Linked DNA regions of Homo sapiens. The protein of the gene in region 3 purifies or fractionates together with the protein of the main gene of each other region. This does not show direct contact. Each region holds a gene or a part of one and is shown on either strand. Other genes may lie near its edges.

The links.
Region 1: the proteins of JADE2 (region 3) and AARSD1 purify together in Homo sapiens (affinity purification with mass spectrometry, with the first as the bait; 3 studies listed by BioGRID). This does not show direct contact.
Region 2: the proteins of JADE2 (region 3) and MYO9A purify together in Homo sapiens (affinity purification with mass spectrometry; 3 studies listed by BioGRID and IntAct, with this or other methods). This does not show direct contact.
Region 4: the proteins of JADE2 (region 3) and ING3 purify together in Homo sapiens (affinity purification with mass spectrometry; 4 studies listed by BioGRID and IntAct, with this or other methods). This does not show direct contact.

The regions. Positions count from the first base shown.
Region 1 is NC_000017.11:42,954,434-42,961,458, reverse strand, and holds part of AARSD1 (alanyl-tRNA editing protein Aarsd1), read left to right. Parts: intron 1-107; coding exon 108-267; intron 268-4,263; coding exon 4,264-4,321; intron 4,322-4,898; coding exon 4,899-5,055; intron 5,056-5,138; coding exon 5,139-5,255; intron 5,256-5,486; coding exon 5,487-5,617; intron 5,618-6,234; coding exon 6,235-6,301; intron 6,302-6,491; coding exon 6,492-6,583; intron 6,584-7,025. Other genes in the region: PTGES3L-AARSD1 protein, read left to right, coding at 108-267, 4,264-4,321, 4,899-5,055, 5,139-5,255, 5,487-5,617, 6,235-6,301, 6,492-6,583. UniProt on the Homo sapiens protein: Functions in trans to edit the amino acid moiety from incorrectly charged tRNA(Ala).
Region 2 is NC_000015.10:72,045,139-72,052,163, forward strand, and holds part of MYO9A (unconventional myosin-IXa), read right to left. Parts: intron 1,497-7,025; 5' UTR 1,426-1,496; coding exon 586-1,425; intron 1-585. UniProt on the Homo sapiens protein: Myosins are actin-based motor molecules with ATPase activity. Unconventional myosins serve in intracellular movements. Regulates Rho by stimulating it's GTPase activity in neurons.
Region 3 is NC_000005.10:134,528,666-134,535,690, forward strand, and holds part of JADE2 (E3 ubiquitin-protein ligase Jade-2), read left to right. Parts: intron 1-3,218; exon of another isoform or gene 3,219-4,880; coding exon of another isoform or gene 4,881-4,925; intron 4,926-7,025. UniProt on the Homo sapiens protein: Scaffold subunit of some HBO1 complexes, which have a histone H4 acetyltransferase activity. Acts as an E3 ubiquitin-protein ligase mediating the ubiquitination and subsequent proteasomal degradation of target protein histone demethylase KDM1A.
Region 4 is NC_000007.14:120,960,757-120,967,781, reverse strand, and holds part of ING3 (inhibitor of growth protein 3), read right to left. Parts: intron 3,041-7,025; coding exon 2,944-3,040; intron 2,527-2,943; exon of another isoform or gene 2,311-2,526; intron 2,080-2,310; exon of another isoform or gene 1,949-2,079; intron 1,157-1,948; coding exon 1,085-1,156; intron 254-1,084; coding exon 134-253; intron 1-133. UniProt on the Homo sapiens protein: Component of the NuA4 histone acetyltransferase (HAT) complex which is involved in transcriptional activation of select genes principally by acetylation of nucleosomal histones H4 and H2A.

The DNA.
Region 1 (7,025 bases), on a different chromosome or scaffold from region 3:
CCCTTAGGGAGCCCAGATTCTGGGTCTCTCACCCTAGAGGGTCTTTGTACCTAGAAGTTAGGGTGAGCCCTGCCTTGCCATTGATTACGTTTACTTATTTCCACCAGCCTGATGACCGTGGTACAATCAATGACATCTCTGTGCTGAGAGTGACTCGCCGTGGGGAACAGGCTGATCATTTCACCCAGACACCCCTGGATCCAGGAAGCCAGGTTCTGGTCCGGGTAGATTGGGAGCGGAGGTTTGACCACATGCAGCAGCATTCAGGTAAAGGCTGGGATGGGGGACATAACACCGGAGCAGTTGCCATGTATGGGGATGCTGTGATGACTGAGACGTAGTTTGGGTTCTCTAGGAGTTAACCTTTTGGAAAAGACAGACTATTCAGAATCAGCTGTAATTCAGGAAGGATATCCTAAATGTTATAACAGCAACATGAACAACTGAAGTAAAAAAAAGTATTAGAATAACTGCTGGATTTAGGTATTATCAACTTCCCACTCGATATCTCCATCTGGATGTCTCACAGCCTTTTCAAACTCAAAATGTCCAAAATGAAACAAAAAGCCTTCCCCTCCCTCCTGGTCTTTCATTAGCATCCTGTGTGTTCATCGCAGGGCATCAGCATGCACCTAGTCACTCAAGTTCTGGAAGTCATTCCAGATACCTCTTCAGGCATAGACAGCCAGCCAATCACTGAGTCCTGTTGGTTTCTTTTCTTTTTTTTTTTTTTTTTTGACACAGAGTTTCGCTCTGTCACCCAGGCTGGAGTGCAATGGTGCGATCTCGGCTCACTGCAACCTCTGCCTCTCGGGTTCAAGCGATTCTCCTGCCTCAGCCTCCCGAGTAGCTGGGATTATAGGCCCCCACCACCATGCCCAGCTAATTTTGTATTTTTAATAGAGACGGTGTTTCACCATATTGGTCAGGCTGGTCTTGAACTCCTGACCTCAGATGATCCGCCTGCCTTGACCCCGCAAAGTACAGGCATGAGCCACACCCCCCCAGCATGTTGGTTTGTTTTCTAAATGTCTGTCCACTTCTTTCCACAGTCACTGTCATCCTAGTCCCAGCTCCTAGCTGTCTTCCCCCTGGACCTCTCTAACAGTTTCCTAATTGATTGCCCCACATTCAGTCTGGCTCCTCTGTAGCCCATTCTCCACATAGCACCAGAACAGTCTTTTTTTTTTTGAGTTGGAGTCTCGCTCTGTCGCCCAGGCTGGAGTGCAATGGCATGATCTCGGCTCACTGCAACCTCACCTCCCGGGCTCAAGTGATCCTCTTGCCTTGGCCTCCCGAGTAGCTGGGATAACAGGTGCGTGCCACCATGCCTGGCTAATTTTTGTATTTTTAGTAGAGACGGTGTTTCACCATGTTGGCCAGGCTGGTCTCGAACTCCAGACCTCGTGATCCGCCCGCCTCGGCTTCTCAATGTGCTGAGATTACAGGCGGGAGCCACTGCGCCCAGCTGAACAATCTTAAAAATGAAAATATGGCAGCCAGGTGCGGTGGCTCACGCCTGTAATCCCAGCACTTTGGGAGACCGAGGTGGGCAGATCATGAAGTTAAGAGATCGAGACCATCCTGGCCAACATGATGAAACCCTGTCTCTACTAAAAATACAAAAATTAGCCAGGCATGGTGATGCGCGCCTGTAGTCCTAGCTGCTCAGGAGGCTGACACAGGAGAATCGCTTTAACCTGGGAGGTGGAGGTTGCAGTGAGCCGAGATCGCGCCACTGCACTCCAGCCTGGCGACAGAGCGAGACTCCATCTCAAAAAAAAAAAAAGAAAAGAGAAATGGCTGGGCACTGTGGCTCACTGCTGTAGTCCTAGCACTCTGGGAGGCTGACACGGGAAGATCGCTTGAGGCTAGGAATTCCATACCAGCCTGAGCAAGATAGTGAAACCCTGTCTCAGAAAATAAATGTAGGCTGCTCGCGATGGCTCACGCCTGTAATCCCAGCATTTTGGGAGGCCAAGTCGGACAGATCATGAGGTCAGGCATTTGAGGCCAGGAGTTCGAGACCAGCCTGGCCAACATTGTGAAACCCTGTCTCTACTAAAAACACAAAAATTAGCTGGGCGTGGTGGTGCATGCCTGTAGTCCCAGCCACTCAGGAGGCTGAGGCAGAATTGCTTGAACCCAGGAGCCAGAGGTGGCAGTGAGCTGAGATGGCACCACTGCACGCCAGCCTGGGCAACAGAGCAAGACTCCGTCTCAAAAAAGTAAATATAACTTTTTTTTTTTTTTTTTTTTTTTGAGACAAAGTCTCGCTCTGTCACCCAGGCTGGAGTGCAGTGGTGCAGTCTTGGCTCACTGCAACCTCTGCCTACTGGGTTCGGGTGATTCTCCTGCCTCAGCCTCCTGAGTAGCTGGGATTACGGGCACGCACCACCACATCCGGCTAATTTTTGTATTTTTAGTAGAGATGGGGGTTCACCATGTTGGCCAGGCTGGTCTTGAACTCCTGACCTTGTGATCTGCTCGCCTCGGCCTCCCAAAGTGCTGGGATTACAGGCTTGAGCCACCGCACCTGGCATAAATAAATATAAGTTAAAGTGGAAATGTAAACAAGAAAAATAAAAACAGACTGAGCGTGGTGGCTCATGCCTGTAATCCCAGGCACTTTGGGAAGCTGAGGTGGGCAGATCACCTGAGGTCAGGAGTTTGAGACCAACCTGGTCAACATGGTGAAACCCTGACTCTACTAAAAGTACAAAAATTAGGCATGGTGGCGTGCACCTGTAATCCCAGCTACTTGGGAGGCTGAGGCAGGAGAATCGCTTGAACCCGAGAGGCAGAGGTTGCAGTGAGCTGAGATTGCACCACTGCACTCCAGCCTGGGTGACAGAGCGATACTCCATCTCAAAATAAATAAATAAATAAATACAAAAATAAATAAAAATAAATATGTAAAATGAAATAAATTTTATTTAATTTTATTTGTTATTTTTATTTTTTTTTGAGACAGAGTCTCACTTTGTTGCCCAGGCTGGAGTGCCGTGGTGCAATCTTGGCTCACTGCAACTTCCACCCCTGGGATTCAAGCAACTCAGCCTCCTGAGTAGCTGGGATTACAGGTGCATGCCACCACACCCGGCTAATTTTTGTATTTTTAGTAGAGACGAGGTTTCACCACGTTGTTTCAGGCTGGTCTCAAACTCTTGACCTCATGATCCACTTGCCTTGGCCTCTCAAAGTGCTGGGATTACAGGAGTGAGCCACCGCGCCTGACTGAAATAAATTTTAAAAAATGAAAATATTATGTCACTCCTCTGCTTAAAGCTCTTCAGAGGCTTCCTGTAGGTCTTCGTGTAAAGCCAAACTTTTTACCATGGCATACAAGCTGTATCTGGGTGGCTCTTGTCTACTGCTGTAGCCTCATCTGGTGTCCCTTGACCTCTTGCTGGCTGCATCCTGGCCTTGCTTGTCATCTCTGGATTCCTTTGACATGCGCTACTTCTTTCTTCCTTAAGGCCTTTGGCTGTCTTGTTCCCTCTTCCTTGATAGTTCCTCCTCTTTCTCCTTTTCTTCCTCCTCCTCTTCCTCTTCTTTCTCCTCATCATCACTCTTGTCAATCAGGGATGCTGCTGTATCTCTTATGTCAAGCCCTGTGCCTTGCATTTGGTAGGTACTCAATAAATACTTGTTGAATGGATGAATGCTGCATATTGGAACTTAAGTTCACTGGGCACAGTGGCTCACACCTGTAATCCCAGCATTTTGGGAGGCCAAGGCAGGTGGATCACTTGAGGTCAAGAGTTCAAGACCAGCTTGGCCAACGTGGTGAAACCCCATCTCTACTAAAAGTAGAAAAATTAGCCGGGCACGGTGATGCACGTCTATAATCCCAGCAACTCAGGAGGCTGAGGCACGAGAATTGCTTGATCCTGGGAGGCGGAGGCTGCAGTGAGCCCCTGCACTCCAGCCTGGGCAACAGAATGAGACTGTCTCAAAAAAAAAAAAAAAAAAAAAAAAAGGAAGTTAAGTTCAAGTCCAGCCCCTTATAAGTTACATTGCCATGGCAAGTTATTTGATCTCTCTAGGCTTCAGTTTCCTCATCTGTGAAATGGTATCATAAGGCCTCTTGCAGAATTCTCATTGTGATTTTCAATAAAGTATCTAAAGTGTATTACCCAGTGCTTAGCAGGTCTTCAACAAGGAGAATTTCTGTGCTTTTATCATTGTAGCTCATATTTTATCATTGTGGGAGTATGTAGGCTTCTCACTTTTCTCCTGTCTCTGGCTCTCTTTGCTTAGGGCAGCATCTCATCACGGCAGTTGCTGACCATCTATTTAAGCTGAAGACAACATCATGGTGAGTGGGAGGCATAAGACTAACTGTAGGCAGGCCCATCCCAGCACTGGGAGGGAGGCGGAGGTGGGAGAATTGCTTGAGCCGGGGAGATTAAGGCTGTGGTGAGCTGTGATTGCCACCAAATGGCAGCATGGGTGACAGCGAGCTTGTCTTAAAAAAAAAAAAAAAAAAGGCCAGGCGCAGTGGCTCACGCTTGTAATCCCAGCACTTTGGGAGGCCGAGGCGGGCGGATCACGAGGTCAGGAGATCGAGACCATCCTGGCTAACACGGTGAAACCCCGTCTCTACTAAAAATACAAAAAATTAGCCGGGCGTGGTGGCGGGCGCCTGTAGTCCCAGCTACTCGGGAGGCTGAGGCAGGTGAATGGCGTGAACCCGGGAGGCGGAGCTTGCAGTGAGCCGAGATCGCGCCACTGCACTCCAGCCTGGGCGACAGAGCGAGACTCCGTCTCAAAAAAAAAAAAAAAAAAAAAAAAAGTGGTGAGAGGGTATGCTTGTTCCAGTTTTTAGAGGAAAAGCTTTCAGCTTTTTCTTGTTCAGTAAGATATGTTATCTGTGGCCACTGTACTTCTGACAGGGAGTTAGGGAGATTTCGGAGTGCGATTGAGCTGGACACCCCCTCTATGACTGCAGAGCAAGTAGCTGCCATTGAGCAGAGCGTCAATGAAAAAATCAGAGATCGGCTGCCTGTGAATGTCCGAGAACTGAGCCTGGATGATCCTGAGGTGGAGCAGGTAAGGGTAGAGCCAGAGGGATGGTTTCTGCGGAATGATTCCTCATCAGATTCAGACAGTCCCTCCCCTCTCCTTGAGTCCAGGTGAGTGGCCGGGGTTTGCCTGATGATCATGCTGGGCCCATTCGGGTTGTTAACATCGAGGGCGTTGATTCCAACATGTGCTGTGGGACCCATGTGAGCAATCTCAGTGACCTTCAGGTAAGTGAGGAACGGCTGTGGAGTGGCTGAGAAGAGGGATTGGGGGAGAGGGGATCACATGGGGCTGGGAGTGGGAGAGGGGGATAATCGAGGAGTCCTAAGTGAAATCTCCCCTTCACTGTTTCAGAGCTGAGGAACAGATAGGTTTCTCCTGCCTTCAGGTTCTAGGATCCGCTGTGGTTTATGCATGTGCACACGTGTGTGTGTGTGTTACCCCCTTGCCTCATGTAGGTCATTAAGATTCTGGGCACTGAGAAGGGGAAAAAGAACAGAACCAACCTGATATTTCTGTCTGGGAACCGGGTGCTGAAGTGGATGGAGAGAAGTCATGGAACTGAAAAAGCACTGACTGCTCTGCTTAAGTATGCCTGTTTCAGTACCTTCGATTACCTCCCATTTCTGAGATTTTCGACATAATCTCTTACCTCTGGGAGATAAGATGCAATCGTAAATGATAAAGTGCGGCCAGGCGTGGTGGCCCACATCTGTAATCCCAGCACTTTGGGAGGCCGAGGTGGGCGGATCACGAGGTCAGGAGATCAAGACCTTCCTGGCTAACACCGTGAAACCCCGTCTCTACTAAAAATACAAAAAGAACTTAGCCAGGCATGGTGGTGGGCGCCTGTAGTCCCAGCTACTCGAGAGGCTGAGGCAGGAGAATGGCGTGAACCCGGGAGGTGGAGCTTGCAGTGAGCCAAGATCGTTCCACTGCACTCCAGCCTGGGCGATAGAGCAAGACTCTGTCTCAAAAAAAAAAAAAAAAAAAAGATCAAGTGCTTTGGATAGTAAATCAGAACCACGAAAAGTGGTTAATTCCTTTGTATGTTTTCTCCCAGTTGCCTAAGAGACCTCCTCAGAATATCTCCTGGTCCCTGACTGCAGGGAGGCACCATAGCAAGAAGGAAATTATTGATTTATGTCCCCAACATCAGAAACGACTGGGAAGCTGCGCAGGTCTCCTCTGACCTTTCTCTTTCAGGTGTGGAGCAGAGGATCATGTGGAAGCAGTGAAAAAGCTCCAGAACTCCACCAAGATCCTGCAGAAGGTGATTTATTCCATGGAGGGTAGAGAGGGCATGGGCCCTGCCTAGGATAGGCTCTGCAGACTTGGTCTTCTGCCTAAACAGATGTGTAGTTTGTCAAAGTGGGAGTGAGGGGAGAATGAGGTGGAGGGAAGCTGATACTCTCTATTGTTATCCTTTCCATTTATCTACTGAGTTACCATATCCATTTCAGAATAACCTGAATCTGCTCAGAGACCTGGCTGTGCACATTGCCCATAGCCTCAGGAACAGTCCAGACTGGGGAGGTGTGGTCATATTACACAGGTGAGAAATTAGGAGCTGGACACAAGGAAGGGGAACTGTGTTGGGCTTAGGGCTCAGTGTCTTCTCTATATGCAATGTACAGTGGGAGGTGGATTGCTCACTGGTATTCTCAAGGTTGAGTAGATCCTAAGAAATATGTTACTGGCCGGGCGCGGTGGCTCACGCCTGTAATCCCAGCACTTTGGGAGGCTGAGGCGGGTGGATCACAAGGTCAGGAGTTCGAAACCAGCCTGGCCAGCATGGTGAAACCCCTTCTCTACTAAAAGTACAAAAATTAGCTAGGCATGGTAGTACGCGCCTGTAGTCCCAGCTACTCAGGAGGCTGAGGCAGGAGAATCACTTGAACCCGGGAGGCAGAGGTTGTGGTGAGTGGAGATCACGCCACAGCACTCCGGCCTGGACCAACAGAGTGAGACCCCATCTCAAAAATATAAAAAAAAAA
Region 2 (7,025 bases), on a different chromosome or scaffold from region 3:
TACGCTGCAGGCAGTGTGCCCAGAATAGCAAGAACAGTATTTCTATAGCTTCTCAGCCTTTTGGCTAAGATCAAGTACAGTTATGTTTTTATAGTTTAATATCTGAAATGTCTTCTATCCAAAGACAATTTTTTTTTTTTTTGAGATGGATTTTCGCTCTTGTTGCCCAGGCTAGAGTGCAATGGCATGATCTCAGCTCACCACAACCTCTGCCTCCCAGGTTCAAACAATTCTCCTGCCTCAGCCTCCCGAGTAGCTAGGATTACAGGCATGCACCACCACGCCTGGCTAATTTTTTTTGTATTTTTAGTAGAGACAGGTTTCTCCATGTTGGTCAGGCTGGTCTGGAACTCCTGACCTCAGGTGATCCACCCACCTAGGCCTCCCAAAGTGCTGGGATTACAGGCATGAGCCATTGCGCCCAGCCCTAAATGAGTTTTTGGAGCTGGGAGATGGAACAGTATCTTGCTTGATCTACTCCACACATCGACCTGGTATTGCAGTACCTCCAGGAATGGTACACCCCCCCACCTCAAAGGATAAAAATCAAAATTAAAATCAAAAATAAGATTTCTATATATTTACCTCAAGTACTGGTCCAGCTCCAAGAATAATCTGTTCTACTCCACTGGCAAATCCTTTCTGACTGAGAGCAGTAAGGTGGTGAATAAGAAAGTTTGTGCTTTGAGTCTTCCCAGAACCACTCTCTCCTGAAATCACGATGCACTGATTCTTTTTGCGCTGAAGCATGGCATGATAAGCTACATCAGCCACAGCATAAATGTGGGGCTCAAGTTTTCCCAGTTGGTGGTTATCATACATTTTGACATATTTGGGGTTATAAATAGGAAGAAACTTGAATGGGTTAATAACTATTAGAATACTGCCAACATAGGTATAAATTTTTTCATGCTTAAAGCGATTTCGTAGGTTTTCTAAGAGAGTTTTCTCATTCAAATCAGGTAAACTACATAAATCATCAAAGTCTTTCTGTTGAGGCTGTGGAAGAAAACCCCGTTCCATCATCCTGCGACGTTCTTCTGTTACCCGTAGCCATGACTGCAGGCTACCATAATGGATTGATCCATCAAGGTTTTTCTCTCTCAGAAGGAAGCGGTAGTCCTCTCCACTTAAGCGATTTTCCAGAGCCATTCGGGGCCACAGCATCATTCGCTGAACTGGACAATCTGTTGGATTGAGAATCCATTCTTCTCCACCAAATTCCTTTACCTCTGCTAGAACATAACATTTTGTTTTGTCAAGATGAAGTTTGTTTATAAGAGACTCAATCACCTCAGCAGCTGTGGAGTTTTTTCTGGCAGGAATCGGACAGTAGATTGTCCCTTCTGAAATAGCCCCAGGATATATCCGTAATGTATGTTCATTATCTTCAAAGCGTCGTCTTCCTCCATCATTTATATTCATATTGGATCCTGTCCCATCAGCATGGATAGTATATGTTCAAAGTCGTGCAAACCATTTTCTTGGTAAAATAACTGTAACATAAAAGATGCAAAATATTTAGAAGTAAATACACATTGCTTTCTGATGCTCAAGAAAGAAAAGCTTAACAAGCATGTTGATTACATCTTCTAAAACACAAAATACTAACTCTTGTCTTAGCACAGCAACAGTTTCATTGAGACCACATAATATTAAGTTTCACTGTCCAAATCTAGGCACTTTCTAAAATAGTAACTTGCCAAAAAAAACATATATTTCAATGTTTTATTATACAAAAATCCAAAGAGTACAAAGAAAAATTATTTTTCCCCTGCTGTCTCAAATGTTTGTAAGGAACTTGGGATTAGAACCAAGTTCTTTCCTTATACTTAACAAAGACTGGATTAAGACAGAATAACCATGCAAATCTAATTGCCCTGTACCCAAAATTTCTTAAGGATAAAGCAAAAACAAGAAAGCATCCCAACAATGGAGCAAAAATTTTGTAAAATTTGTTAAAAACAGCAAGAAGATAGATAAACATAGAAATTACATAAAACCAAGAAAATGATGAGAGAAACCAACTAAGGAGATAGACATATATTTTCAAGGAATTCTAGGCTCTGACTCACTCCCTCCCACAAGGTGGGAAGGAGAAGGGAGTTTGGCAAGAGTGACAAAAGAATCCTGCCCCTGACTTGCTAGGCAAATTTAACACAATTATACAACTAGGCACCACTACAAATTTTATTCAGCTTCCCTTTTTCCTTCAATGCTACCATTATATCTTTTTACCTAACCTTATTTATTGCATTCCTTACAAGTATTCTGCATTTTCTTCCCATCTTCTCGAACCTCGTATACAGTATATTACACTTCTAGAAGAATGATTTCAACTTTTATACCTCACTGAGAAAATAGTGATTTCCTTCAAATGGCTTCTCCAACTCAAAATTTATTCCTATCTTTACCTCATCTATCTTATTCCATTCCTGTCTTCTACTGAGAAAATATGCCCCACACACTTTCCAGGGCTGATAAAACCTGTTTCTTATCTTCATTAGTTAGTTATATGCCCCCAAAAAACTACTCTCATGTGTCATCAATATTTACCTTATTTATTTCATCCTTTAACATATAAGGATGATGTGCTATTAAAAAAATAATAAGAAGAAATACTTTCAGTTACTTCCTTTTTTTTTTTTTTTTTTTTTGAGACAGGGTCTTGTTCTGTCACCCAGGCTAGAGTACAGCGGCATGATCTTGGCTCACTGCACCCTCCATCACCCGGGCTCAGGTGATCCTCTCACCTCAACCTGGCTGGGACTACAGGTGTGCGCCACCTTGCCTGGCTAATTTTTGTATTTTTAGTAGAGATGGGGTTTCACCATGTTGCCCAGGGTACTATCTATCCTCTCATACTACTACATATTTGTCAAAGTCTTCTAATCAAGAAACTATTTTTTCCTGTTTGCCTAGATGGTCTTTCAAACACAGAGATTAATACAAAACATATAAAAAAAACCCAGCCATATAGGCCAGGAGTGGTGGCTCATATCTGTAATCTCAACACTTTGGGAAGCCAAGGCGGGCGGATCACCTGAGGTCAGGAGTTCGAGATCAGCCTGGCCAACATGGTGAAACCCTGTCTGTACTAAAAATACAAAATTAGCCAGGCATGGTGGCACGTCCCTGTAATCCCAGCTACTCAGGGGCCTGAGGCAGGAGAATCACTTGAACCCGGGAGGCAGAGGTTACAGTGAGCTGAGGTCGCACCCCTACACTCCAGCCTGGGTGACAGAATGAGACTGTCTCAAAAAAAAAAAAAATTAAAAAAGAAATAAACTAGTGAGGAAAGGACAAACTATTCACTGTGGTACTGGTTCAATTGCTAATCTGAGTTGGAGTGAAGAAAATTAACAGTCCTATCTCATAGCATACTGAAAATAGATTCCATCTATGGATCTGTACCTATCAATCTGTTCTGGGCTCTATAGTCTGTTCCATAGGTCTATTTTTCCACCCCTGAACCTCTGTTAATTACTACAGTCCTATAATAAATTTTGGTATCTGAAGGGCACATTACCTTAATGTGTTGTTCTTTACAAATTTTACCTTGGCTATTTACACTACCATAAAAATGTTTAAGTTTGCATGTTTACTATCGTGAAAAAAAACCTTTTCAGATTTTAATACTGCATTGACTTTACAGATTAATATTGGACAGAACTGACATCTAATTGACTCTTCTCATTCATGAACACCATGCTGTTGGCTTTTAAAAATTACAACTATATTTTTCACTTCTAAAGTTTTTGTCATTTTCAAATCCACCTCATCTTTTTTCCGCCGATTTACATTTCAAAATTATTTATACTTAAGGGCTATTACTCCTTTTCTTTTTGAAAACCCTCAGTATGTAATTTAATATTTTTCAGACTAACACTGAAATGTCATCCAGACGGAACTGCTCTTATGGTTATTTCATATCTTCCTTAGCATGAGATGAGTTCATATATTTGAGAATTTAGCTTTACAAGTGCACTTTTGATGGAACTTCTTTTGTTTTTCATACAAACACTTACTGAGAACATGTTTACTACTTTTTTAAGAGAACTACAGTATCATAAATATATTTTTAAAAATTAAAAATTTTGGTATTAAATGATCAATTGATATTCAAATTTCCAAATTTCCTCAGTTATCTCATAAATATTTTTCTTACAGATAGTCTAGCTGGAGATTCTGCTCTGCAATAACAGTGAGGATATACTCTGAGTTACCAGGTTCCTAGTTGTATAGCTATGTTTGCTTTCCTGAATCCCTAAGTGTTTGCTTCATATACGCTATGGCATCTGGCAGCAGTCAGCAGCAAATCTTCTTACAGCCAGGGAGGCTGTGACCTGTACCACTCCAGGAGATGTACTAAGTTAAGGGGTCCCCAACCTCTGGGCCATGGACCAGTGCCAGTCCATGGCCTGTCAGAAACTGGGCCGCACAGCAGAAGATGAGCAGCAGGCAAGTAAGCATTACTGCCTGGGCTCTGCCTCCTGTCAGATCGTCAGCAGCATGAGATTGTCATAGAAGCATTAAGCACTATTGTGAACTGCATATGCAAGGGATCTAAACTGCATGCTCCTTATGAGAATCTAACTAATGCCAGAGAATCTAACTAATCATCTAATACCTGATGATCTGAGGCAGAATAGTTTCATCCCAAAACCATCCCCTACTACCCCATCTGTGGAAAAATTTTCATCTATGAAACCAGTCCCTGGTGCCAAAAAGGTTAAAGACCACTGTACTAAGTAACTACAATCTAATCCCTAAAGTTGTATAATATGGCAGCCCTGGAAGTAAACTTAGAAACATCTTTTTTAACAGGAGTCCTATCTTGGACCACTGTTTCCAACAATAAGCCCAACTCTAATTACACTTCCCCATTACTTCAAAGCAGCCAAAATCACACCTGCTCCTTCCTGAAACAGAAGTGTTTACCTTTTTTGAGTCCTAGTTTTGTCAGTTTGGTTTTATCTTTGTTATTTTATCAATTACTGCTTTGTGGGTTTTTTTGTTTTGTTTTTTTTTTTACAAAAAGGAGGGTTTGTCTCAAAATACCACTCAGAAATCCATCTTGATCACAAGCCAGTCCTTACTAAACAGCTTGGAAAATCTGTACTTGCAAATCCGAGACATGAGCTTTCATCAAAATCATCTGGGGAGCTTTTTCAAAACGTACATTACCAGCCGGGTGCGGTGGCTCACACCTGTAATCCCAGCACTTTGGGAGGCCGAGGCGGATAGATCACGAGGTCAGGAGATCAGGACCATCCTGGCTAACATGGTGAAACCCCATCTCTACTGAAAATACAAAAATTAGCCAGGCATGGTGGTGGGCACCTGCAGCCCCAGCTACTCCGGAGGCTGAGGCAGGAGAATGGCGTGGACCCTGGAGGCAGAGCTTGCAGTGAGCCAAGATCATGCCACTGCACTCCAGCCTGGGTGACAGAGCAAGACTCCGTCTCTAAATAAATAAATAAATAAATAAACAAACAAACAAACAAAATTTTTTTTTAAATGTACATTACCAGGCTCAACAATAGTTATGAGTTGAGGAAATGCAGGTAATTCTGTTATTGCTGGTCCAGAAAATAGTATTTGAAAATCACCATATTCCCAAATATTTGGGAACTCACTTTCTACTCCCTTACCACTCTTCCCACATAGCAAGCTACTTGACAATGCTCCGGAGAAGTCACAAAATTCCACAGAGTTGGTAATCCAAAGGTCTTTCCTCATTCTTCATTTTAACACACCACACTATGGCATGACTAAAGCAGCCAATTTCTAGTTCTTGAAAGTGTACTCACATAGTTATTTTTCTTGTAGTCTTCCTGATAGTCTTGCTCTTTTTCTGACTCACTCCTACAGCTCCTTTTCCATTAACTCACTTTATTTTGTTGTTGTTTTGTTTTGTTTTTGTATTTGTTTTTGTTTTATAGAGCCAGGGTCTGTCTCTGTCATGCAGGCTGGAGTACAATGGCACAATCATGGCTCACTGCAGCCTCAACCTTCTGGACTCAAGTGATCCTCCTGCCTCAGTCTCCCGAGTAGCTGGGACTGTAAGTGCATGCCACCGATGGCAGCAGCGGCCCATCTATAGCGGCCACTGCCATGATACCAGCTGCAGTGGGGGAGGTGCAGCCAGGACTGCGTGCTCCATGGAGGCAGCAGAAGCCAGGAACAGGTGGGAACCCTGCCACCTTCTGAGTTGACAGGGCAGGAGTTTCGTGCTCCCTAGGTGCAGCTGCGGCCACCTGCCCAGGTGGGCTGCAGACCCAGGCATCACTGTGCTCTTGGGGGATGGGAGCAGGCAGGAGCCCCACCCTCCCAGGCACAGCTGCAGCCGCCCAAGCTGCAGCTGCAGACCCAGGCATGTCTGCACTCTCAGAGGCCCAGGAAGGCCCCCCGCCCAGTCCCTGCAGGCTCAGAGGTGTTTGCTCCCACTGCCTGGCCTCTCCTCACTCCCAGCACCCACTCCAATCTCAGAGAAAGGTTGGGTCCGAGACTGGGCACTGTCACAGCCTGGCCAAGTGTGCACACGCTCCAGATAGCACTGATACACCAGCCCCCTGCCACCTTGGCCCCCTCTAAACTTTGGGTGCCTACAAACACTAGAGGGAGGCTGAGGGGGTACTGAGGGCAGCTCAGTACCTGTAGGCACCCCCTGTCACAAACAGCCTGGGCACCATGAACAGCAGGAGGAGGCAGGCAGGCTCCTGGGCAAAAGGAGGCAGGTCCCTGGTGAAACCCCACCTTCAAGCCAGGGAAGGCCTGAAGCCTGGGGACCAGGCTTTCCATTGGCACCCGATGACCAGAGTGGGAACTTGTGGTGCTTTCTCCAGGCTCACCCATGGTTGTCAATGAACCAATCAGTACACACACCCTCCCTGCTGAGACCTATAAAAGCCTGAACTCAGCCAGACTTGGGGAGACAACCACCTGCCAGTTGCAGAGAAAAGGTGCCCACCCCAGGGTCTCCTCTCTGCCGGGAGTTGAGAAGATGATGGGACAACCAGCTG
Region 3 (7,025 bases):
GTTGTTTTGAGTGGAAAAGCATTTGGTTCTGCAGCAAATGCCTCACAGAGGGAAGTCCTCGCCCCAGGCAGCAGGACTTGCAGTGAATATTGGTTTTGAAATTGTTTGGCCAAGGGTCCCCCCATCACTTTTGGAGATGAAGTGTTTAAGGATAGAGTTGTTTGGGCTCAGGATGCAGCAAATGTTTCCAGAATGTTTTCCCGTCCAAAATGCTTTTCCTTTCCCTAAATTGCCTGGCTAAAGGGCCAGTAACAGTGGTCCAAGAGGTTGTCAGAAATCTCCACTTAGCTTTCATGGACTGGTGAGGTGGGACTGCCAGTCCCCAGGTCCTAGATGCACCACGGAGTATTGACACTGTATAGGCCCTGGACACTGACCCCCACATCCTTGAGGTTGGGAGGCAGGGTGTTCTGGCTCTAACCTAGTGTTCCTCTTAACAGGAAGGCAGTTGTCTTATGCTCATGACACAGGTAAGAGGCTTCTAGTCCAAATTCTTCATGGCACATGCAGCAGGCTTTTTGGGACCTCACAGTTCTCCCTTTAGGTTCTCTGATGGGGAGAACAGGTCAGAGTTGGGGAGCAGGATACCCCTGGCTTGCCCTGTCCTCCAGATAGGACCCTTACCATGTGGCTCAAAAGCTTACAATTGTAGGTCTGCTCAAAGCTCCTTTCAGACAGCCCATAGGAATCTAGAATACCCATACCCTGGAACTTGTAGGCCTGTACACTTCAGCCCACTGGAGATGGGGTACACCTTCTGGAGTCAGACAGCCTAGGTTTGAATCCTGGCTGTGCAGTTACCAACTGTCATAATGGCTCTATACCTCAGTTCCTTCTGTTACAAGGAGCACTTTCTGCAAATGGGATTAATAACAGTACCTATCTCATAGTGGATGTATAGAATAAGTGATTACCTAAAAAAGACTAAGCCCAAAGCAGGCATGTGATAAGCACGTGATTAGTATTAGTCATCCTTATTATACCTGGGGAGGGTCCCCGATGCAGCTTGGACCTTTGATCTCTCACCTTTAGGCTAGGCCAGAGAGCCAGCTCGCTTCTCTGCAGAAGGGATCAGAAGGATCCTGCAGGTGCCAATAGGCAGCCGATATGGGAGCGAGTAGACGGAGCTCTGCCCTCTCTGGGGCAAAGAGTAGGGTGAGAAGGTTCTGAAGAACAAAGTAGACAGAGCCTTTTCATTCTCCCACCATCCCCTTGGTACGTCCCCAGAACTGGTCTGGAGGGTGGGTGTGGCAGCGTCTTCAAGGGGAGCTGAGTCCCCTCTGGGACACTTGAAGTTGCAGACAGGCAATGGCTGGTGTTGCAGGAGGGTTCAGGCTCCTCTAGACTTGGAGAAGCAGGTCCAGGAAGCCGACTGGAGGATCCCAGGCAGCAGCCCTCTACTCTGTATACAAAATCATTTTTGTAACTGCAATTACTGTCCCTGAGAAGGCATTAAAGTTAATGAGAGATAGGAAAGAGTGGGGCTGTGACCCCGGTTTAAAGCGGTTTAAGAGTGTGCAGCTCTTGTTTTCTGAATGTCTGGCCTTCCCAACACAAGGAGGCTCTGAGGACAGGTTTTCCAGCCGAAATATCATTAAATTGTATTAGCATCTTATTACACACACGCCTTAGCGGTCTGCCTCAGACAGGGAGAGTTTTTGTTTCTCTTTGAAAGATTGTGTCTGGAATGGTAAATTGCCTGCTTGAAAGCCCTTTTTTCCCCTTTTTTTAAAGAAGAGGACGAAATCCTGCTGTGTGGTGGCAGGCAGGCCAGGCCTAGTGGCCCCTGGAGAGGAGAGGCTGGAGGCCAGGTTGGGGTGTTTTAACTGCCCAGGGAGTGGCTGCAGTGGCAGGCCTGAAAGGCCCACTGTTCCCAGGGTCAGCTGGAAGGGCGTTAATGGAGGCCCAGGGTGTTTATTTGAGTTTATTTGCAGAGAGGTCTTTAAAGGGGGCTGGCATTGGGCATTGGTGTTTTAAGTCCAGACCTGAGGCCCTCACTAAGGCCAACCACTAGTGCTGCCAAGAAAACATCTGCCACCAAATTGCTGCCCTATTACTGAGTTGACATTGATCATTAGCCAGGAGCCCAACCAAATAAAGCCTCCTGGAAAATGTGTGAGGTTAAGACGGGGAAGGCAGGCTGTGAAAACAAGGGCGAAATCTTGGGCCAGGGTGTTTGTTCCTGCAAGCCACAGGCAGGCCAGCTGGACTGTGTGGTCCCGACACTTCTTGGGGGAGGGAGCGAGAGCACACTCAGCACTCCCTAGTATGTCACTGGGGTTCTGGCTGGAGTCTAAATGGAATGCTCCTTACTCTTCATGGAATATACATTCCCAAGGAGAACGACATGCAACAAGTAGCTCAACAAGCACAGCTGGGATGGGTATTCCGTGGACACTGGGTGGTGAATTTCTTCAGATAGTGTGATGAGCATAGACTGACATGGGCCACACTGAAGCTTAAACCTGAAGGTTGAAAAGTCAGACATGCATAGACCACATAGAAGAATATTCCAAACAGAGTGGAGTACAGCGTGTGCACAGGGCTCGAAGTATGGAATATTTGGCTTGTTCAAAGGAATGAAAGGAGCCCAGCATGGCTAGAAGGTGGTGAGGAAGGGGATAGTGGTCAGTATGAAGCTGTCCAGGTGGCAGGGGCCAGATTGTGTAGGGTCTTGTGGTCAGGAGCTTAGGCTTTGTCTTTTGATCTATGAAGCCTTTGAAAGATTTTCTTAGGGGCATGATATGATCTGATTTATGCCTTTTAAAATTTTTATTTTGTTCTAATTTTTTTTAGAGATGGGGTCTTGCTGTGTTGCCCGGGCTTGCCTTGAACTCCTGGGCCCAAGTGATCCTCCTGCCTCTACCTCCCAAGTAGCTGGAACTACAGGTGCATATCACCATGTCCAGCTTCTGATTTATACCTTTTTTTTTTTGAGACAGAGTCCCACTCTGTTGTCCAGGCTGGAGGGCAATGGCACAATCTCGGCTCACTGCAACCTCTGTCTCCCAGGTTCAAGCAATTCTCTTGCCTCAGCCTCCAGAGTAGCTGAGATTACAGGCTTCCGCCACTAAGCCTGGCTAATTTTTGTATTTTTAGTAGAGACGGGGTTTCACCACATTAGCCAGGCTGGTCTCGAATTCCTGACCTCTCAAGTGATCCACCCACTTTGGTCTCCCAAAGTGCTGGGAATATAAGGATGAGCCACCGTGCCTGGCTTTTTTTTTTTTTTTTTTTTTTTTTTTTTTGAGACAGGGTGTCACTCTGTCACCCAGGCTGGAGTGCAGTAGCATAATCACAGCTCACTGCAACCTCAACCTCCTGGCCTCCCACTTCAGCCCCTTCAGCAGCTGGGACCACAGGCACACGCCACCATGCCCAGCTAACTTTTGTATTTTTCATAGAGTCGGGGATTTGCCATGTTGCCCAGACTGATCTTGAACTCCTAAGCTCAAGTGAGCCACCTGCTTTGGCCTCCATAAGTGCTGGGATTACAGGTGTGAGTCACCGCACCCCGACTGATTTATGCTTTTTAAACATCACTCTGGCAGCTGTGTGGAGCCTGGACATGGGTGAATTGATACTGGAAGCTGGGAGATGAACAAGTGGTTCAGGCAAGAGATGAGATTGGCTTGGACCAGTGTGGTGATAGTAGGAAGAAAGTGGGTGTGTTCTGGAGGCAAAGCCTAGTGGACTTGGTGGGGCCGAGGATACAGAGAGGCTGTGGGCTTTTGCTTCATTGAGGGGACTCTACGACACCCACACTTTGAAGGAGAGCTTCCTACCTGTGTCTCCATGCTGGGGGTTGCATGAGAGGTGCCAATAGACTAGTGCAAATGGCAGGAAAATGAGATCTTTTCTTTCCTAAAGTCTCCTTTATAGGTAGGATTTCGGGAGCACTTTCTGTCCTCGAAAGCAAGTGCCTTGTGACACTGAAATCTTCTCCCACAGCAGACCTTGCTTTGGGGGAGATGGGGGAAGCCAGTGGAAAGGAAAAACCAGAGGCCAAGATCACATCTAAGCACCTCCACCCCCCAAGTGTGTTTGCAGTCCTGGATTTCAGCTTTGGGAAAGGAGTCCTCCCTGTCCCTCTTGCTGAGGTTGCGAGGAGGGTGATCCATGGGGCAAAAAGCTGACATAGTGCGGTCCCAGGCCTCATTAGCCACTGTGACAGTGGGAGCTCGCTGGAGCAAGGAGGCCTTTGGAAGACTTGGTTTAAAGGAAAGAAGCTGCACTCACAAAACAGTGGCTTCCTTCTCAAGCCTAGTTGTTATAACAATTAAGCCACCACAAAATCTGCTCCCTTAATAATAGCCTCCCATGGGACAGCCCTGACCCAGAATAATCCCTAGGCACTCTGGGGTGTTTTGTGGAGGACAGGGTTAGATGGGGAATTGGCTTGGTGCGGGGTGTAGGTCTGCATGCTGTCACCTGTTGGTCTCTGGGCAGTCAAGGAGTCCTTTCGAGGGCACCTTCCTTACTGTATAGGGTCACTGCCTCTTTTTTAGGAGCCCCTCCTCCAGGACTTTCCGACCTGGTCCAAGGCTGCCATGGTATTACTATCTGGCACCCATATGGATCTCTAGCCACTGTGCTGAGGGCTTTACACTGTTCTTATTTATTCTCACCAGCTGATTCTGGCCCACAGATGTGTTTAGTTTGGCCCTTTCAAAGTGTTGTAAAAATTCTGACTCAGTTGCCAACATTTTAAATTAAGGACATTTATGTAAAAAGCCAGTTCCAGTTTATCTCCTCTGGGAGGTATGTCTTTCCCAAGGTCCCTGGTCTATGAGGAGAGGAGCTAGGATTTGAACCCATCAACAACTTCTGCTTTTAATACTGTGGGAGATGCTGGCTCGGAAGTACCTTCTTTGCAGGAAATGAAGAGAAATGGAATTCGCTTACAGGATTGCAAAAGAAAATGGGTGGGTGCACTTTTAGCACCTCCCCCCCACTCCACCCACCGATGTCAGGACAAAGCTGGGTTGCGCTGGGCTGGGCTGAGCTGAGGAAGACGTAGGCTAGAATCAGGAGTCAGGATTCTGTCAGTCAGCCTTTGTCACACTCTCTCTTTTTTTTTTTTTTTTTTTTTTTTTTTTGAGATAAGGTCTTACTCTGTCGCCAAGGCTGGCGTGCAGTGGCACGATCATGGCTCACTGCAGCCTTGACCTCCCTGACTCAAGCTATCCTCTCACCTCAGCCTCCTGCATAGCTAGGACCTCAGGCATGTGCCACTACAACTGGCTAATTTTTAAATTTTTTGTAGAGATGAGTCCCCCTACGTTCCCCAGGCTGGTCTCGATCTCTTGGGCTCAAGAAATCCTCCAGCCCCGGCCTCCCAAAGTGCTGGGATTACAGGTGTCGCACCCTTGACACGCAGACTCTGGAAGGCAGTGAGGGTGGCAGCTGTGGGTTGCTGAGCTGTTTGTACTCTGCTGCGCAGAGACGGAGAAGTCAGAAGGTCAAGAGCACGGTCTCCTGAATCAAATACAGTCACTGACATCTTGGGCAGGTCACTTAACCTCTGAGCTTCAGTTTCCTCCTCTGCAAAAGGGAAGCAGCCATGATATATGCCTATAACAAAGGGCTGCTCTAGGGACTCGTTGAGGTCCCTGTGGACCCTGTGGAACCCCCTCCCGCTACTGTGAGCGCTTAGCAGTCTTAGCCATCCTTGTTCCTGCGTTTGTGCTGCTTGCACCACCAGTGTCCCTTGGAACCTCAGCCTCTGGAGGGCACTTTACCGGCATCTTTGAAGCTGGGCGGCAGGCAGCCTCAATGAGCCTTCCTGCCATCCTGGTCCTGCTGGTGGTGGGCACTGGGGTAGAGAGAAGCTCCCGGCTAAGATCAAGTCCAAGGCAGGAGGGCCATCCTGGTCAGCTGAGAGATCTGGGTGTTCACACCCACCTTAGAGAGCAGATGCTCACTAGTCTCTGCAGGGCTGCAGTAAGATGGTGGCATCCCAGGGCTCAGCAGGAATGGACTGGGGTTGGGGGCAGCTGGAGTTAGGTGCAGATGGGCTGGGCAGTGGGGCTTTCTCTCTACTGACACAGACTCCCTCCCTATCCTTTGCTGTGGGGAGTCAGTCAGGGAACACAGGGGAGCGTGCTCTGAACCCTGAGCCCCCAATGTGTTCCCACATTAGGACTCAGCCACAGGCGAGCTGTAAGACCCAGAGCAGGTTAACGCATCACCTGCTGTGCTCCCCTCCAAGGGGATGAGAGCAGGCTCTGCCACCTGGGACTCGTGAGGATTATAGGAAACAGTGGTGGGAAAACACTTTCAGCAGCCAGGAGCTGATGGAGGGTAAAAAGGCAGCTCAGCATGCGCCTGGGGATCAGACCTCATGGATTCAGTCCCATCTCAGCCACTTACTAGCAGGACAAGGTGCTGGCCTCACTTGTAAATGGAGCTCACAGCTCACCTGGTTAGGAACAGGAGATGATGTGGATAAAGGAAGACTCCGCGTGAGCTCAGTATGAGGCCCCTATGTGAGAGTTGTCCTTAATACCTTGAAGTTAGATGTTGCAGTTGAGGTAGAGTTTATTTGTACGTTTATCTGGGAAGGATGGTGGGGAGTAGGAGGGCAGGGTAGCCCAGCCCAGGACCAGTCACCCTGGGCCTGATGTGTCTCAGGGACCCAGCCTGGAGTGTCCCCCGCCTCTCCCCCGCTTCTGTACACTGCTGACCACCACTCGCAGGACTAGGCCCTCAGTGTTTTCTGTGCTGGCTTGTCCCTAACTTCCGACAGCATGGTCCTCCTGGAAGAATCAGTCTTGTTTGCTGTCCTCTACCCACCTACCTCCCTAGAGGACTTGTGGCTCAGGAGGCCTTTGCAGTGGTGGGCCTGAGTGTCCTTGGGTGGCAGCTGGGACTGGGCAGGTCATGGTCACTATTCAGTTTGGGCTTGCTGATGCCCCCATGTCCTCTCCCTCTACAACAGCTTTGGTTAGACCCTTGCTCAACCAAGGGCTCTGGGCTCAGGAGGTGGGAGATGCAGCCTTTTAGAATCCCAGGGCCTCTGTGGG
Region 4 (7,025 bases), on a different chromosome or scaffold from region 3:
TTTTTCTTCTTTCTCCATATGTATACTTTAACCAGGTAAAGAAACTGTATGATTCATTAATCCTGAAACACTTTATTTCCCCTTACTCTAACACAAACAAACAAAGCAATCATATTTAAGAAAATTAACTTACCTAGTGTATTTTCCTTAGAGGCATCTGACGTAAGGGTGGATAGAAGAGCTTCAGATTTAAATTTCTTTTCAGGAATATGATCTGTTGTCGTATGGTGAGAAGTTGGATTATATTTCCTTTCTAAATATAAATAAAAAATTCATGTGTTTTTAAACTTTAGAGAACTATGGACAAGGCATAATACTTATATCCAGTTAAAATGTGAAACAGTATGATCTGGGTTCCTCATAAAATACAGAACATGATGTTTCCTCAGAAGGCAGGACAAGCAGAACTCTGTGTCACATGTTTATTAAGAGTAGACTTCTCCACCATTTAAAAAACTTCTAGCAAAGTACTAAAGATAACCCAAGATACACCATGGGCTCACATACAATGTGAGGGAAATTTTGTTTTCAAAACACAATCTACCACTTAAAATAGTTTCCCACCAAATTGATGTGTCAAAAGATGTACTGATATAGTCATTTTTTGACTGTTACCAACCAGCCAGCCAGTCATCTAACTAACAATTCATCCACTCACTGACTTACCAACCATTCAGACTTAATTATATGCCAAACATTAGGTTAAGCACTGGAGAAGCAAGGATGAAAAAGACAAAGGGCCTATTACAAAATAGCTTATTGTTTGGCTCAGTTGAAAAGCTCCCTAAGGAGAATGCTCAGTTGAAAAGCTCCCTAAGGAGAATCAGGTATGTGTATGAAGGGAATATATGCTATTAGTACTATACATTCTCCTTCTACGCATTTAAGAGAAAACAGAATACTCATTTCCGAATCACATATGCTCCCCCCAAGGAAAAAGACAAGTCTGCCAGTACTTGCAATGAAAAAAAAAGAAGGGATTTATTTCTCAATTGGTTGTGTAGAGTTAAAAAAAGAGAACATATAGGTGATATAATAAGGTTTTCATTGTTTTTAAAACTTAGCTGCACTACACCAAACTTACTTTCCACTGGAGTATGTGAATGAGCATGGTGATTGTTCACTGGCTGTGAAGGAGTGTCTAATTCCAAAGATCCTAAAAGAAGAGAGGCACAGAGATACACCACCATTAAATGTCACCGCAGAACTTCACATGTCACTCAACTACAGGCAATGAGTTCCCTTACCCAGCAGAGGACTAGCAAGTTCTGATGCATATGCCTGTATTTATTTTAGCCAGACATGTTAGAGGATCACCACTGTCCATCCCACACTGAGTTATCCTCTCTCTAAACAATAAGTTATCCTTTTCCCAATATTAATCTTAAGTACAAAATGGCTCAAGGCATACTCGTGTCTAATTAGGGAATTCACCATAGTGGGTGCCATATAAATGGATGAATGGACATTGTAATCTCATTACTGGTAAGAGTCAACCTAGTTTTACTGAGTTGAAGACCTTTTAATGGGAGATTCTGAAGTTCTACGTGATGGGGGACATTACTATATGAAAAAAATTATTTGATCATTAAAATGACATTATGATAATAAAGACTTCCTAAAAGAAGTTAGGGATTTTGTTCGCAAAAAGTGAGGAATAGAATCTCTAACACCAAGCTTTAAAATACCTCTAAATACATTTTTCTGGGTTTATTTTTGATCCCTTGAGATGAAATTATGGCAGGGCACAGGGTGGAGCAGTTTTTATAACTTGATCCAATTTTGTTTCATATGTCTGTGTCCTTAGAGAGGATGCTTTATTAACCTTCCTGCAGTACTGAATAGGCATGAATTATCATTACTCACAGCTATCATCAGCATTTTTAAAAAATCAAAGCAGATACAGAATTTTTAATTTTGTCTCAAAATACTTATTATCTTTATATAGGGTTCCTCCAGAAGAAAAGTATCACAAATAAATAGGATGATTATCTAAAGTGATGGATCTACTTTTGAACACAAAAATGCAACTATGGATACCAAGACAGATCTGTGATTGGCTTCCCTAGCTGACTTCTAGTGAGTAGAGAGATACATAGATTGGCACTGTAAAGAAATCTTTCATCTGTGTGTAGAAACAGGTACATATTCTTACTGTTGAAATGCACCAAGAAAAAGAAGGTTTGTAAGTTTTAATTAAATTCTAGTAGAAATTAGCCATAATATTAATTTGGTTCAATTAACATCTAGTGAGTGCCTACTCTACACCTAGTACCACACTAACTGCTTTTATGTACATTACCTATTTAGGTTGAAGAAATGCTAAATTAGTTAAGGAAACAGTGCTCATGCTTCCATTTTTGGGAAGTCACACCAAAGAAGTGACAGGGGTAAGTTATAGCAGGAGATCAAATAGAGCCTTGCAAAGAAATATCAAAATGGTTTCTTGCTGCTAAGGGAAAGAAGAAAACACTTCTTTAAGAAAAAGAGGTAGTGTTATGAAACCAATGTGAGTCTTTTTCAGTATATGCAGTTAAGGAAAAGCCATAAAGTAATTCTTAAGAAGAGAAACTAACAACTTTCCTCAAAGCTTAAGTGTATAAAGAGGCAGAGTAAAGTCAACACACTTAATGCAAGATGGTTAATTTGTCTCCCGATGGTTACATTTCTTTAAATTTGTTCTTACCACTCAACTTACTAGTATATGTGGATATAAAATGATTTAATATGTTGTTTCATAAAGAGTGAGTGGATGATATCCTATATTATCTCTCTCAGTATGCATGACCCAAACATTTCCAACTGTTAGGGTCCAAGCTATCTGGCCTGGATGCCACCATCCATTGAAGGGCAGGATTTCAAAAGCCTCTGTGGGACAAGGTCTTCTCAGCGATTTGCACATGTACTGTCCAATATTGATGGAAAACTGTAAATTTTACTTACGCCTCTCTAATATTTCTGTAATTCCAGCATTATCAGCTTCCAGCTCCATTTTAAACTTAGCCAGTTCCTGATCCAGCTTTCTCAAGTGTCGATCTACCTGTTTCAAAGAAGATCAAAGATAACCACCAAAATTTGGGACACTGTTAAAGTGTCAGCTTAATGAGGAAACCTAAATTTTTGTTTCTTTTAGTGAATCTGCTTAGTATCCTTGAGCAAGTCAATTAATCTATGCCTCAGAGGTTTTTAATCTATAAAATGAGGGTGTTAGGCTAAATAATCTCCCAAGTCTCCTTCAATAAATTTTAAGTTCTAAGACCCAGACTCTCAACTTGTTAGGAAATGTTCTATACTCCATTTTCAGAAGTCAGGACATGAAAATTAAAGCAAAACTGATTAGGGATTAGAGAATGGGAGGAGGGGATGGTGGAGGCTGGTCACTTTTCATAATATGCCCTGTGATTACTTAGAGCCTAATCTCCTCCTGCTTATAAGGCCATCATCCACACTGTCATACGATAAAAGCTATTATTTAGAATGATGAAAGATCCTCAGTCTACAAAGAAGTTCCTATATTCTATACATCTATTACTCTAAGGCATGAGAGTGAATCATAATGCTTGTAAACATTTATGTGAAGAGGTGAAACAAAAGGGATTGTTAGCCAGAAAACTCCATTCCTCAAAGGATCTGGTTAAAATTATTTTATTTATAATACTATTTCCCTAGTTAACTTGGCAAAATTTTATTTTGTCACTGAGAGATCTTTTGACTAATTTCAGAAAATTATATGACACTTCAAACTAACAAAAAATGTCTTAATGTATTTTTTAAACTTAATATTAAATATTTTAATATTTTTTCAAACTCATTACTTTGAAGTGAAACCAAAAAATACACAAATTCTTTGAAAAATATTCATGTCACATTATTGATAACATCCTTTTCTAAGTCTAGTTTCCCACTGGATTACTGCTAGAATTAGAAATAACTTTCTTACAGATATCAACATGTGCTATGATACTCTACCAGGGCAACATTTTAAGTAAGGTTTAGAATTAAATAATGTGTAACTAACATGAGGAAGAAGGGGAGAAAGGTAGCAAAACACAATGTGCATGGGTTAGATGCCTATGAAGAGGAGGTAATGTGCTTGACGCATCAGATGACCTATCTTTTCTAGCCCTCGATCTGATCTTTTGAAGTTATTACTGTCTCTACTTTATAGGTGAAGAAATTAAGGCTCGGAAGGGTTACTTAAGTAATATGCCCAAGGTCATATAGCTAATGCATTACAGAAACCAAATTTAACTTTATTTGTAACAAATTCTGCTTTGCCATTTACCTGACATTGACCTCTGAACTTTCTGCATGCAGAAAACAACTGTTTTTTTTTTGAAAAACATTCTTCAGAATAATATAACTCAAGTATAAAAACTAGTAATATTGTCCTATTATTTGTATTTTATATATTAACAACAATCATTAGGGTGTTGGTTTGTGATTTTTTCAAAAACTGAAAGCCAGTTTTCCTTCTACCTTTACACACACATTACTTTTCAGAGTTCTAGAATATTTAAAAACCTATAACATCACATATTATGGATACTTGCTCCTATTCAAAGAATCTGCAGGTAATTGAGCATCCTTTAATGGAACTTCCTTTCCAATAATAGTGTGAACACAGACGTCTGTTATTTGAGCATACCTCTTTCATTGTCAAAATTTAATCTCAAGGGAAATCAGAAAAAATATTCATATTTAAGTTCCAAGACCACTAATGCAACGAAAACACTCCATTGCTTTTTGTACCTACAATTATACTAATAATAAATATTGAGCTATTACGTGCTTGGTGCTGGATTAAATGGAGGATATATGAAGAATGGAAGAGAATCATTGCCTTCATAGGAATTAGAATTTAGCTGACAAATCAAGATTTATATATGATTTTTAATATAATAAGGGATAAAAATATAGTCTAGATGTCACAAATAAGCAACAGTTCAAAAAGAGTCAGAAGTTGTACATAAAAAAGTAACACTGGTAGACACGAAGGAGGTACGAATTAAGACGGTGAAGATGGATTGTATTCAAATAGAAGGAAAAAAGGAATCACAATAAAAAATGTAGAGACAGAAAGACAAACAGTATGCTTAGAGAAAAACAAAGTATGATGTAGCGTGTAATATGTATATAAAGCACAGTGAGCAAGAATGTTAGGTTGAGGGGGTAGTGTTAGGGTGAGATAAAGACCTTTCTTTTTCATACCATACACCTTGCCCTAACTCACTTCACCTCTGCATTTAAGGATTGTTTCATTTTATTAAATATATTATTGATAAAGTTCACTACATATGAAAATGTTAAAAATAATGACAAGACTTTCAATACTAGATAGCTCAGAAAAGGCACTAGAACCTAAAGGGTTAATAACTCTAAAAACCAAATTCATAGTTAAAATAAACAAAGACAGAAAAGCCTTAACCACTTGTGGTAGGCATCTTTATAAGACGGCTTCCAATCATTCTTACTTCCTCATATGTAAAAGAGATTATGACCTGATTAATATTATAAGCAATTATTAGGCAATGAGCATTATTTTTCTTCTATTTACTACTGCTGTACTAAATCAAATTAGAAGTTGGAAAGTCCCATTGACCACAAGAATTAACTTAAGCTATAAAGCACTAGGATATTTAAACAATATTAAACAGCCATAATAAGAGCTGTGAACTTGCCTGAAATCCATCATGTGCATTCCCTCAACCTACATGATTCTGAACGGTTACAGCACCTCTTCTAGCTGATCACCATGTTGTCCCCACAGGCATCAAGCAAAGCAAGGATGTAAGTTACCTCACCCTTCCACAAACATCTGCTTTCATAAGACTGATTTACAATAGTAAAGAGGGTACTGATCCAATTGAGAGATTTTCCATTAGCCACAGATTCCTAAAACAGGGCTAACCACAGAGTCTAATTATTTCTTTTTTTCCCAGTTAATGTCAACAAGTGCTATAAACAAAGTTTCCTTGCCCTATAATCCCAAATCATATTCTACAACCCCAAATCATAACAGCTTTAAGTTTAAACTCCTATAATTTTTCTAGCCTCTTTAAAGACAAAGGATATTCTACCAACATTACTTGTTAACACACTCATGATCATAGCAAATTTAAGTCATACTTGGCCCCTCTGCACAAAACAAACAAAAAATCCTTCATCCTATAATATTTGCATAGAGTTGTAATCTTTGACTCTTTCTTTTTTGACTCTCTGGTTTTCTAATATTCACATTTAAAGTGTATCACTAATGGACCCAAACAAAACTAAATACAGCTTTTTTAAAGTCTCTACATGATCTACTGCTTCCAATACAATCAATTTATAAAATTTAGATGTCTAGCTTGCCCTATCGGAAGAGGCAATCAAGTCTGTTACATTCTAAGTTGAAATAGACAGCAGTAAGTTAAATTTCTAACCATGAAAAGGTCTAGTAATAGCGAGTAAAGAGGGTAAATTGGGGAAGAAGAAGAAACCATGATAGCAAAGTATTTCTCAGATAACAGGTCATGAAAATGATTCTTTATATCTCTAAATTAGATTTAAACTAGATGAAAATGTGACCTATTGTTATGCTGAAACAAATACTTGAGAGGCCTTAGCATATAACTCTGTCTAATCATCTTCCTGAAAGACAATAAGGACAGGACAGAAATCAAAAGGTCAAACTCACATATTTCCTTAATTAGAGTATCAGATGAAAACTCTCAAATTTATAGGTAAAATGTGCATCTGAAATATAACCATCTCAGGAACAGGCCAGGATATAAAAAAAGAAGCAAGTTCAAGGGTATTGAGCACTGCAAGAGACTGCTAAAATCATTCAAGCATTAACTAAAAGCTCAAATTTTATCAGGGTATGTATAAATCAACTTTATTAGGTATTGCAATCCAATACATCCTTATGACAGTGACATCTGGCTGAGAAACACAAATAAGTATTTAACAACTATTTATGAGTATCATGCTTCTAGAACAAAACTATTTTAACAGGATAGATTTTTGTGTGTGTTAGTCAA